2 separate regions of the Homo sapiens genome follow, and region 1 is linked to region 2. The links come from fine-mapping of genetic effects on gene expression. A gene starts in region 2. The other region holds a variant in brackets. All regions are shown on one strand. Distances are from middle to middle.

Region 1 (2,908 bases), 22 kb before region 2:
GACAGTACTGGTCATGCAATGAATGGGTACGGCTGTTCTGAAGAGCATCAAGAAAACTGACTAAAACTGGAAACGCGTGTACCCTAAAACAGAATTGCCACACCCCTAGGAACTCACCCCAGGAAGACTCTTAAAAAGGTGCACAAGGGGACACATGAACAAATGTCCACTGCAGTAGGGTTTCCAATAGCAAAAAAAAAATCTAAAATTCCATCCATAGGAAAATGAGGCATATTCACAATGGAATATACTACAGCAGTTCCGATTCATAAACAAACTACACATACTAACAAGGATAGAGGGAAAAACGATGTTGAGAAAGCAAAGCCAGGTACAGTGACAGACAGTGTGATGCCACATCTGTACATCTGAAGCATGTAAAAACCTGACATATTCCTCAGCATTTATGTAAAAAGTACTGTTTGGGTGATAGAACAATGTAAATTCATGATTATGGTGCCTCAGGGCAGAGTGACACTGGGACAAGTGCAAAAGAATCAAAAGGGAACTGAACTTTTTAAAATTTTAACTTAACATAAACAACTGAGAAAGTCAATTCTGTGTGATAGAAGCAAGGTGTTTTCATATTATTCTTTAGTGACAGGGTCTCACTCTGTTGCCCAGGCTGGAGTGCAGTGGTGCGATCACAGCTCACTGGAACCCTGAACTCCTGGGCTCCAGTGATCCTCCTGCCTCAGCCTCCCAAGTAGCTGGAACTACAGGTGTGTGCCACCACACCCAGCTGATTTTTAAAATTCTTGTAGAGATGGGATCTCACTATGTTATCTGGGCTGGACTCCTGGCCTCAAGCAGTCCTCCTGCCTTGGTCTCCCAAAGTGTTGAGATCACAGGTGTGAGTCACTGCTCCTGGCTGGAATGTTGTTTTGAAAAATGTGTTCAGGCTCTGAGAATGGCTGCAGAGCTCAGCAGGGCATGGGCCAAGACCTCCAACACAGGGAATCGTGCTGCACAGACCAGGTGGGGTGATGAAGCACCCAGCCGCCCTCCTCACCAGGCTGTCTATGTGGTTCTAACATGGTCTGGTGGCCAGGGAAAGGGCTCTGGATGGGAGCCCAGAGACTCAGCCCTGCCATCAAGGCGTGTCCTAACTGCCCAAGGCAGGGGTGGAGCACCCTTGTCTCGGCAGCTCTCTCCACCTATCTGCAGTCTTGGACTCTTACTGCTGCTCCCGAGCCGCCATGTGCAGGGAGTCCATGATGAGTCGAACCGCCTCTGCAATCTGCTTGGCCCGGACCGTGTGCTGCTCAAACTTGGTCTTCACTGCAGACTGGGAGATGCACTCCTGGAACACACAGAGGCACGGAGGGAGGTGGGGGCCACCAGGGGCCTACAACCAAGGGCCAGACTCTGGTTTTCACTGCCAGGGACACAGCCAATGGGAGCTGGGGAGGCACAGAATCGCCAGATACCAGAATCAGAGGACTCACCTCAAATCTCCTCTCAAAATTCTGAAACTCAAACATCCTCACTTGAAAGCCTTCTGCGAGAGCGCCCCCTAGGAGGATTGTACTGCATTAGTCCAGAAACAACTTGGCAGCAGAGGAAAACGATGAAATCCCCAGAAACCAAGCCACTGGCTAAAGAGCAAGAGCCTCTCTGCTCTTCTCAGCATCCCCTTCTCAGAAGGATTTTCTACTGACAGACTCCTCAGCACGAGACAAAATGTCTCAAACATCAGAGAAAAGGAGGACATCTGTTCTCATCATTACCTCCTTCAGGCAT[G/A]CCCTGGGCTTTCTGAATCCTGGCGTTGAGCACCTCCTTAGCAGACACAAAGAAGATGCGGTCCCCGGCCTGGGATCGATCCACCACGCCCAGCTCATCCACCAGGAAGCTGGTACAACGCTCCATGTGCTGCCGCCGCACCTGGAGCCCAAACAAATGTGTCCAGAGTGAGTGTAGGTGGCCCCACAGCCCCCACCTGCCTCTTTTATTAAAAGAATAGGTCATAAGAGGCTGGGCATGGTGGCTGACGCCTGTAATCCCAGCACTTTGGGAAGCCAAGGCAGGTGGATCACTTGAGGTCGGGAGTTCAAGACCAGCCTGGCCACCATGGTGAAACCCTGTCTCTACTAAAAATACAAAAAAATTAGCCAGGCATGGTGGCAGGCGCCTGTAATCCCAGCTACTCAGGAGGCTGAGGCAGGAGAATCACTTGAACCTGGAGGCGGAGGTTGCAGTGAGCCAAGATAGCACCACTGCACTCCAGCCTGGGCGACAGAGTGAGGGAAAAAAAAGAATAGGCAATATATTCACATGGCTCAACAGCCAAAGGCACAAACACATACACAGTGTAATGTCCCCCACTATTCTGCTCTCTCACCACCAAGTTTCCCAGACCAACGTGTGGGGGTTACTTGGCAGTGAGCGTGCCAAAGATATTTTATGCATATACAAGCAGAAATGCTTAAACGTGCCCTAGACTGCCTCTTGTTAAGCCTATATAGTGCCTCATTTTGGTGCCCTGGCAGGAAAGGAACCCTGAGGTCAAGAAACCTAAATCTGGGACCTATACTCTGACAAGCTGTGTCCTCCTGGGGCATTGTTTATAAAAGGAGTGGGCATCACTAGAACATCCCTCCTGGCTCTGACATCCTGGGGTTCTACCGATAAAATGTGACAATAGCTTCTTGTAGACACCTACCACGTGTCAGGTGTTTTTGACAGATTTCATCCTCTCAACAAGTCTATTTATCACACCATCACACTGGCCAGGAAATTGGATTACCAGAAGGGTCAAGGAAGCTAACAAAGTCACACTGCCTAGTGTCAGTCACAAGCGGGCACAGTGGCTCACGCCCGTAATCCCAGCACTTTGGGAGGCCGAGGCGGGCGGATCACTTAAGGTCAGGAGTTCAAGACCAGCCTGGCCAACATGGTGAAACCCCAT
Region 2 (2,908 bases):
GAGGCACCACGGAGGTCCCTGCAGGAGCCCTGGGAAAGGTACATCCAGAGAGGGGAGAAGAGGACAGAGCAAAACTAGGAACAAAACTGGGCTTGAGGACTGTGGAACAGCTGACTATTGAGGAACAGAAGAACTGACTGAAAGCCAATGTGTTCAGCTACTGTAAAGTATCTCACTTAATTCTCTATTCTGTGGGACAGAGGGCTGGAATACTTGAAGATTTGTCTAAGCTGGGATCTGAAATATTAGCTCCCTTTGACTCCAAAGCTCCTGGAGTGCAGCAGCGCGATCTCGGCTCAACCTCCGCCTCCCGGGTTCAAGCGATTCTCCTGCCTCAGCCTCCTGAGTAGATGGGATTACAGGCGTGTGCCAGCAAGCCCGGCTAGTTTTTGGTTTTAGCACAGACGGGGTTTCACCATGTTGGCCAGGCTGGTCTCCAACTCCTGACCTCAGGTGATCCGCCCGCCTCAGCCTCCCAAAGTGCTGGGATTACAGGTGTGATCCACTGCGACCGGCCTCCTTCCTTTTTTAACTACATTGAGCTGCCTTCCTCCCCCAAGCCCCAAACCTTGGGACACCAGAGGCGGATAACCAGAGCCCTTTTCTGGGTAGAAAAGAGATAACCAGAGCCCTTTTCTGGGTAGAAGAGAGAGAGATGATTGAGAATTTAAAGAGGGCAATGAAGGATTACGAGAGGGGGTAACGGGCAGTTCTGCCTTCGTGCGTCTTAACAGCTATTTATTCAACATTTTCTGTGTGCCTTCTCTGTGTGTGTCAGGCGCCACGTTAGAAATGGATAAGAAACAGTCCTGCCCTCCAGGGCCTTACAGTCCGGTGAGAAGTCATATAAGTAAACAGGGCTGAACGAGAAGGCAGTAACTGCCCAAAGTGGGGATGGCAGGGCGCTCCCGCGGTGAACGTGGACACCTATCAGGTGCTGAGTAAATGCTGGCAAAATGAAGACAGGATGAAAAATAGAGAAGGGGCAGGGGTAGAACATGGCCGTGAAGGGTGGAAAGGCGGGGGCGATGAGAAGCTACAGGGGACCCCACCGACCAGTCCCAGGTCCCGTGGCCCGCCCCCTCCTCTCAGGGCCGGGGAGGGCCCGGCGGCGAGGCCGGAGAGTGGGGACCCCGCTTGACTGCATCCCAGACCCCCGTGGCCCCAGAATCCCGTCGGCCCACGCCGAGCTGCTCAGGACTCGCCGGGCCGGGCCGGGCCAGTCCCCGCCACCCCGGCTTGCTCGCCCTCTCACCTTCACCTTCCCGGCCTCGCGGCGGCCATCACACTCACTACGTCACCAGCGAGCGCCACCCCAGGGGGAGGCGGGAGGAGGGAAGTGGATAAGCGCGTCACCAGTCGCCTCAGATTGCCCCTCGACCCGGGTGAGCTGGTGGACCCTGAGCCCAGCCGGCTCGCCCCGCCTACTCCTTACGCCTCTGCTGCCCCGCGACTCGGCGCTTCGAGCGGCGTCTCAGCGCGCCACTCCTCCGCGCGCCACTCCTCCGCCGGCGCGTCCCAAGCGGACGACGCAGAGGCTCGGACTCCCACTGCATCATGGGGGCTGTAGTTCCGGTGGGCGTCGGCCGGAGCTGGGGGGGCGGGGCAAAGCGGGGCGGAGCCTCAAGCTGTCAAGGGGCGAAAAACCAAGGGCGTGGAGTAGAGGTTCCCGCTTTTTCGCCGGTTGTCCTAGAGCCTGACCCTGGGGCCTCTGCCAGCTCTGGAATCCAGATTTGCATTCTGTAATCTTAGAGGAGTGTTCTCTAGAGGGCCAGGCCTAGGGTGAAGTGACTCATCGGGCAGACAGAAGCGAGCATGGGCCTGCTGCCCTTCAGTCGCCTTTGAGGAAAGAAGAGCAGCAACAACGGCGAATCAATGCCAGTGACTGAACTGCGTCTCTAACATCCACCGCTGTATTTAACGTCCACAGCAGTCCCAGGAGAGGGAGAGGAGAGGTTACCCAAGCTCACATGGTTACCCAGATCACCGGGCCCCAGTGATGCGGCAGACACTACTAGGAAACCGCAGCAAACAGATCCCTTGCAGGACTTGGCCTCCGCAGAGAAGGCTCCAAGCCTGAGCGCGCCAGAACAGTAGGCACTAGCCACGTGTGGCTCTCGAGTCCTGAGCCAGTGCAAACGGAGATGCGCTATAAGACTTAGGACAAAAAAGGCTGTTAAACTATCTCAATTTTTAGGAAAAAAAAATATCGACCGGGCGCGGTGGCTCAAGCCTGTAATTCCAGCATTTTAGGAGGGCGAGGCGGGTGCATCGGGAGTTCAAGACCAGCCTGGCCAACATGGTGAAACCCCGTCTGTACTAAAAATACAAAAATTAGCCAGGCATGATAGTGCACTCGGGAGGAAGAGGCAGGAGAATCGCTTGAACACGGGCGGTGGAGGTTGCAGTGAGCCGAGATCATGCCACTGCACTCCAGCCTGGGCAACAGAGACTCCGTCTCAAAAAAGAAAAAAAAAATCTATCTTTGAGCCAGAGTCTCACTCTCACTCAAGCTGGAGTGCAGTGGTGCAATCACGGCTCACTGCAGCCTCGAACTCCTGGGCTCAAGTAATCCTCCCACCTCACTCAGCCTCCCAAGTAGCTGACCACAGATGCTGCAGCCATGCCTAGTATTTATCTTTTGTAGACATGGGGAAGCATTTCACTTTGTTACCCAGGCTGGTGTCCTGAACTCCTGGACTCCTGGAGTCAAGCAATCTTCTCCTGCCTCGGCTTCCCAAAATGCCGGGTTACAGGTACCTGCCACAGTGCAGGGCTATTAGCCCATTACTATTTATATGCTGACTACATGTTGAAGTGATAATATTTTGGGTCATTTGGGTTAAATACATTACTAAGATTAATTGCACCTGTTTCTTTTTAAAAATGTCGCTACTAGAAAATTTAA

The links. PIP is the estimated chance that this variant, and not a neighbour inherited with it, causes the effect. A credible set is the group of variants that fine-mapping cannot tell apart.
Region 1: its variant is the best candidate, but not a certain one, in a credible set for the expression of MFN2 in whole blood (INTERVAL, PIP 0.86).

Annotation. Positions count from the first base shown.
Region 1 is chr1:12,000,377-12,003,284 of GRCh38, reverse strand. It overlaps MFN2 (mitofusin 2), which reads right to left. Exons shown (of 19, transcript NM_014874.4): 9 at 1,731-1,884; 10 at 1,449-1,516; 11 at 1,182-1,303. Among named protein-coding and RNA genes, the nearest start is that of MIIP, 18 kb to the left of the region's middle. RefSeq lists an enhancer at 1,558-2,487. The variant G/A (reference allele first, on the strand shown) is at 1,744.
Region 2 is chr1:11,978,832-11,981,739 of GRCh38, reverse strand. It overlaps MFN2 (mitofusin 2), which reads right to left and starts at 1,296. Exons shown (of 19, transcript NM_014874.4): 1 at 1,256-1,296. RefSeq lists silencers at 1,011-1,250, 1,421-1,680.